2 linked regions of the Homo sapiens genome follow. The protein of the gene in region 1 purifies or fractionates together with the protein of each later gene. This does not show direct contact. Each region holds a gene or a part of one and is shown in the gene's direction. Other genes may lie near its edges.

The links. The genes of interacting proteins can lie anywhere in the genome.
Region 2: the proteins of MYH3 (region 1) and TTC4 purify together in Homo sapiens (co-immunoprecipitation; one large-scale study listed by IntAct). This does not show direct contact.

Annotation. Positions count from the first base shown.
Region 1 is NC_000017.11:10,633,310-10,636,809, reverse strand, and holds part of MYH3 (myosin-3), read left to right. Parts: intron 1-956; coding exon 957-1,075; intron 1,076-1,246; coding exon 1,247-1,443; intron 1,444-1,786; coding exon 1,787-1,970; exon of another isoform or gene 1,971-2,125; intron 2,126-2,627; coding exon 2,628-2,793; intron 2,794-3,094; coding exon 3,095-3,219; exon of another isoform or gene 3,220-3,394; intron 3,395-3,500. UniProt on the Homo sapiens protein: Muscle contraction.
Region 2 is NC_000001.11:54,739,861-54,743,157, forward strand, and holds the end of TTC4 (tetratricopeptide repeat protein 4), read left to right. Parts: intron 1-1,550; coding exon 1,551-1,653; 3' UTR 1,654-2,797; downstream 2,798-3,297.

The DNA of each region.
Region 1 (3,500 bases):
CCTGAGTAGCTGGGACTACAGACGCATGCCAACACACACGGCTAATTTTTGTATTTTTAGTAGAGACAGGGTTTCACTGTGTTGGCCAGGCTGGTCTTGAACTCCTGACCTCGTGATCCGCCTGCGTCGGCCTCCCAAAGTGCTGGGATTACAGGCGTGAGCCACCGCACCCGGCCTATGGTGGCCACTTTTACCATGTTGGGGGATTCACGTCTGGAGCCATAAAGCCCCATTCTATGTTTTTCTCTTACCTCTATGTAAGCATATAAACTTGAACTTACCCTATTCCCCCAAGAGTCTAACTAGAGATATAAAGCTCTAAGTATTTCCCTATGTATTTGTCGATAACAAATCAATAAACAGCTGGAAACACCTGCCACTGGGGAGGTCTGATGGGAGTTATTAGGTGCTCCTGGTAACGTTTACATTTACAGTTCTTCTCAATGGATTTTTTTTTTGACAGACATCAGTCCCACCTTCCAGTAGTTTACAACAATATCTTTTTTTTTTTTTTTTTTTTTGAGATTGAGGCATGATCTTGGCTCACTGCAACCTCCACCTCCTGGGTTCCAGTGATTCTCCTGCCTCAGCCTCCCAAGTAGCTGGGACTACAGGTGCCCATGACCACGCCCGGCTAATTTTTGTTTTTAGTAGAGATGGGGTTTCACCATATTGGCCAGGCTGGTCTCAAACTCCTGACCTTGTGATCTGCCTGCCTCAGCCTCCCAAAGTGCTGGGATTACAGGCGTGAGCCACTGCACCTGGCCTACAACAATACCTTATCAGTTCTGCTTTCAGTTTCCTTTTCATGAACCATATACCTTCTCCCTGAAGAAGAAACCATATCTTATCATTTTCTGTCTCCCCAGATCTTAGCACAGTGCCCTACACATAATAGAAAGTTGGTGAGTGAATGAGTGAATAAATGAAATGAAACTATTTCCTTCTGGACACAGGTGAGCTGAGTCGTCAGCTGGAAGAAAAAGAAAGCATAGTATCCCAACTTTCCAGGAGCAAGCAAGCCTTTACCCAGCAAACAGAAGAGCTCAAGAGGCAGCTGGAGGAAGAGAACAAGGTACACCATTGAAGGAAGACTTCTTTGCCCTTATTTTTAAATATCACCTGTAGGAGGAAAAAATAAAAGGCAACTTCATTCAGAAGGTGGTGATAGAAGGGACACACTTGGATTGTATCATGCACCTGGCACTAAATATATCAGGTGCTCTTCTCTTTTTAACTTCTGCAGGCCAAGAACGCCCTGGCGCACGCCCTGCAGTCCTCCCGCCACGACTGTGACCTGCTGCGGGAACAGTATGAGGAGGAGCAGGAAGGCAAAGCTGAGCTGCAGAGGGCGCTGTCCAAGGCCAATAGTGAGGTTGCCCAGTGGAGAACCAAATACGAGACGGACGCCATCCAGCGCACAGAAGAGCTGGAGGAGGCCAAGTGCGCAGCTCTGTTTGCTTTTAGAAGAACTACTTAGGAATGAATTCGATGAATTTATTTTTATTACTAGGCGTTTCCCCATCTCATGTGTCTTTAAATGCGGTGCTGGGCCATTAGAGGGACCTGGCGTTAGCACATTTTATTAAAACAAACAGCTTTGATCTTGGTCAGACACAAGGCAAGTTATTGATCCCAGATTTTGAGTAGACAGGAAATTCTCCTGGGCGTATAAAAACACATGGGTGTCTGAATCACATAGATTAGTGATTCCAACTTGATGAATAGTGATGTTCAAGTGGATGGAAACTGAAATAACAGCTGCTTCTCTTTCATATTCTTTAAGGAAAAAACTTGCTCAGCGCCTTCAAGATTCCGAGGAACAGGTTGAGGCAGTGAATGCTAAATGTGCTTCACTGGAGAAGACCAAGCAGAGGCTGCAAGGAGAGGTGGAGGATCTGATGGTTGATGTTGAAAGAGCCAATTCCTTGGCCGCCGCTCTGGACAAGAAGCAGAGGAACTTTGACAAGGTGTGGGGTCCGCTGTGTGCTGGGTGAATGCCATGATGTAAGGGATTCCTAGCAGCCGTGGAAGGAGGAGAATGCATCCCGGACCTGACTCTGCCCTCACCAGCAGTGTGGCCTTGGGCAAGTCCCTGAACTTCACCGGGCTGTAGTTTCCTCATCTGCAAAACAGAATGGGAATGGGCTGGGGGTAGAGGTCCCTTTCAAATGTTGTCCGTGGAAACAAACCAATTTCTACAATGTCCGTGCAGTCCTAAGCATTTTTCCTTTCCGTACTACTGGTCTGTCTAAGCTGAGATCCTATTGGGAGGCTTTCTGGAAGCCCTTCTTTCAAGATGGCAGATAAAGTTGATTGGAACCAATGCTTTAATGAAATATTTAGAAGTACAGGGCCCTTTTTATATTAGGAAAAGGACAATTATGCCCAGCTAATTCCTTCTCAAAGGATCTATTTGCTTTTTCAAGATGGCAATTGTTCCTGACTCATTACCTTGAGTACATTTATGGAACAGAATCTTGATTAGCCCAATAATCGACAACAAGGAGCCAGGCAAGTGATGCCAAGTGTAGCCCTAACTCTGCATTTAATTTAGTTATTTAGTATTTTGTTAGAAACCTAGAGGAGAGCTCAGAAACGGAGAGAACTTCCGTCCGGTGTTTCAGGTGTTGGCAGAGTGGAAGACAAAGTGTGAGGAGAGCCAAGCAGAGCTGGAGGCATCCCTGAAGGAGTCCCGCTCCTTGAGCACTGAGCTCTTCAAACTGAAAAATGCCTACGAGGAAGCCTTAGATCAACTTGAAACTGTGAAACGGGAAAATAAGAACTTAGAGCGTAAGCTATTCGAAACCCTCTGAAACCTCCTCCTTTCATGCTCTATTGCTCGAGAGCATGCTGGCGTGGGTGTGGCTTCATCACTCAGTTTCCTGCACACATGTGTGTTAATGCACATGCAGAAAGTGTTCACCATCTGACGGGTTACGTTTTAGCCTCTCTCTGTACAATATCTTATCTCTAGGAAGCAGGAAACCTTAGGATTATAATAAACCAGGTAAAAAGCATTGAGTCAATGCTTTGCATGTCTGGAAACCCACGCAGAGGCGCTCATATGCAACTGAAACTTACTTCTTTACAGAGGAGATAGCAGATCTCACAGAACAAATTGCTGAAAATGGCAAAACCATCCATGAACTGGAGAAATCAAGAAAGCAGATTGAGCTGGAAAAGGCTGATATCCAGCTGGCTCTCGAGGAAGCAGAGGTGAGTGCTGGGAGGCAGGCTCAGGCGCAGATGCAGCCATGGTGAGCCACGGCCAGGGAGGCTGGCTGCTCCATGCTGTGTCTCCATTTTTGCCTTTGTCAAATCACAGTCCTAATGCCTGCTGCTTTCCCGTCACACAGCAAAACTGTGAGGCTGAATAATACCTGTGAATTATCTTAAATTTATTGGAGAAGACTGTCATATTAAATAGGCCTAAAGATGAGATTTTACAAAATATTACATGAATTAAAAATATCTAGAAAGTGCTTTATGCTCCTAAG
Region 2 (3,297 bases), on another chromosome or scaffold:
TGATTTTTAAAAATTAAAAAGATTTTAAAAGATGTACAGAATAGGCCGGGTACAGTGGCTCATACCTATAATTCCAGCATTTTGGGAGGCTAAGGCATGAGGATCACCTGAGCTCAGAAGTTAGAGATCATCCTGAGAAACACAGCGAGATCCCGTCTCTATAGAAATCTTTTTTATGGTGTTGTGCACCTGTAGTCCTCGCTATTTGGGAGGCTGAGGCAGGAAGATTGCTTGAGCCCAGCATTTCAAGGCTGCAGTGAGCTATGATCACACCACTGCACTCCAGCCTAGGTGAGAGTGAGACCCCCTCCTCCCACTACCCAAAAAAATTACAGAGTAATGTAAAGATTTGAAGTGTACTGTTCAGTGGTGAGGCCTGAAGTAGGAGGAGGTGGATTAGAGGTTTAGGAGGTAGATTGGATGGGAGCTGGTGTAGTGTTGAGTGATGTGATAGGGGTGTCCAGCTAGTCTTAATGCTTTGGCTTGGTAGGCAGGAAGGAAAGGTTTTTCCAGATCTGATTGATACCTTTGGTGGTGTTTTGCTCTGGTCCCAAATCTCTCTTCTTCTAGTTTTTGGACACATTTTTAGCTGCTCATTTTCTCAGTTGTTAGCAAATTACCCAGAATTCTTTAAAGGCCTGAGTTCTGCCCTACCCCAGAGGAGAAATCTAAATAGAAAGCAGACCGATGCTTGGAGGAAACCCGTTTCATGCTTCTCAGAAAATGTAAATGCTGTTGGAAGTTACTACCTTTAAAATTATTACCATAGGCAAGAGCCTACCCAGGACTGGTTTCTGGCAACTTCAGACCCTAAACTGGGTGGAGCCACGAAATAGGCCCTCTGTCCCAAAGCAGGCCCACTGAGTAATACAACACCCCTATCCCTGGGAGGCCAAAGCCCTCCCTGCCTCTCTAGCCTGCCTGACTCCTTTTGCTTTGTGCCCTAGCCACAGCAAACATTCTGGTTACTTGCACCTCCTGGCTTTTGCTCCCCAACCCCCATCACCACCCCTTCCCCAAATTAAAGCCAAGTTCAGACATGGCATCTTCCAGGAAGCCTTTTTTGATTCCCTTCCTCATAGAGGGAATCGTGCCTCCTTGGGATAATGCTGCGCCTCACAAATGCTTCTGCAGTTGTGCCTTGCTGTCATTAATTGGTTCCTCATCTCCCTCCCCTCCAGGACTGAATTTGAGAACAAAGATGATGGTGTGTGGGTGTTGGTTTTTTAATCTCTGTGTTTTCAGCACAGGGCCTGGCTTACCACTGAATGTTGAATGAATGAATAAAACCATGCTTTATATTTTTATTTCATATTTAGCCACAGACATGCATGATGCCAGAGGACTGGCCTAAAGGTTCTGGCTAGGTTGTAAGGATGAGAATGTCATGCTAATTTGCCAGATTTATGAACAACCACATAACTGTGCTAAACTTGCATTTTCATGTTGACTCCCATCCAGAGGCTCACCTTGCATGTTGTTAGGAAGGTGCATGGATGGTTAAGATTGTAATTAAATTAACACCCTCTCTTTTGTTGTGTTCACGGCAGGTACTTTGTAAAAGCCCTGACACCAGCATTTTTGGTCTGTGTAGGATCCTCTCCTTTTTGCAAGAATTTTCTCCGGGGGAGAAAGGTGTACCAGATACGATGACTAAGCCAGGGCCCCTGGATCTCCTCCCTTACCCTCCTCTGCTGGGAACCTAGCACACCTGAATCAGCTGGACATACTGCTGGAGTCCAGTGCTTTCTTTCCGTCACCCTGGGGATAGTCCTTCCTGGCATCGTGGTGGGGGAGGAGCCTCTGGCTTCCCTAAACTGCAGCCTCTCTGGCTGGTCTTCACTTTCCTCAGTTGATATAAAACTCTGGGTCTTGGCCATGATGTCCTTGGACTCCATCGCTAAAGGGACCATCTGCTGCAGTTACCACAGCAACTGACCTGAGCGGCACCCTGGTCTGTGGAGATGGACTCAGGATCCAGTGACATGATTCTGAACTTTTGTGGAGTTTGACACCTTAGAGAAGCTACCCCTCAAACTGCACATCTACACACAAACAAACAATGCATAGGATTCCAAGGCTTTAAAGCTGAGAGACCCTGGCCTCAAGTTATTTCATGCGCACAGAGGGAAGCCATGTGGGGTTGCTGAAGATGCCTTGAGGTGAAATGGGGGCAGGAAAGCCACATCTTGCTCTGCATTTATAAAGACCGTACAAACTCAGATCCTTGGTACCCCTAAAAAGATTGCCAATTTTCTTCATCTTTGCCATATGGAGGACTGTGACAGACTTTGGACAGTGGCCTCTTGAGTTCCTCTGCAGTTTTGACATTTAGGATTTTGTGTCTTTTAAACTGGAAAATCTTCTAGCATGTTGGGTTGTTACAGAGTATATTTTTGTCTGCAGCTGTTTGTTGCCCCATTCCTAAGAGGAGTTTATCCATCCTGACTTGTAGCTGTGTGACTTCTTGCAGTGCCCCCACCCCATCCCCCCGGGAGAGTGTACTTCCCTGCTCCCAATGCAGAGGGATATGCACAGGCATGAGCTGTCCTGCGTCTGACAGAAGCCTGAAGAGTCATGTGTGGTTGGCCTGTGCTCTTCCCTCTGCTGTGAGAACACATTTCCCACAGAGGAGCCGTTCCATGGAGCCGAGCTACAGCAGCTGGCCTGCAGCCACTGAGTGTCACAGCAATGAGAGAGCAATGTTTGCTGTAGTAAGCAGTGAGATTTAGGGGTTGGTTGTTACTATAGCAGAGCTAATACATGAGTAAACTGAAGCCAGCTGCTGTCCTTAAAAGTGGACTAATTTGAGGCTGGGTGCGGTGGCTCACGCCTGTAATCCCGACACTTTGGGAGGCGGAGGTGGGTGGATCACCTGAGGTCAGGAGTTCGAGACCAGCCTGACCAACATAGCAAACCCCGTGTCTACTAAAAATACAAAAATTAGCCAGGCGTGGTGGTAGGCATCTGTAATCCCGGCTACTCGGGAGGCTGAGGCAGGAGAATCACTTGAACCCGGGGGGCGGAGGTTGCAGTGAGCCAAGATCGTGCCATTGCACTCCAGCCTGGGCAACAAGAGCAAAACTCTGTCTCAAACACAAACCAAAAAAAAAGTAGACTAATTTAGAGTTTTGTGTAGTGTGCCTCACTGTCTTTGAAAGGAAATTGGCTGTGGAATATTTACAAAGAACCATGCAGCTTCCAGGTGCCGGTCCCTGTCTGTGGCTTGTGGCTAGGAAGCTGAAGTTCAGCCTCCTTCCTACTCCTGGTTTTGGCCACTTAAGGACCTGAGGACCA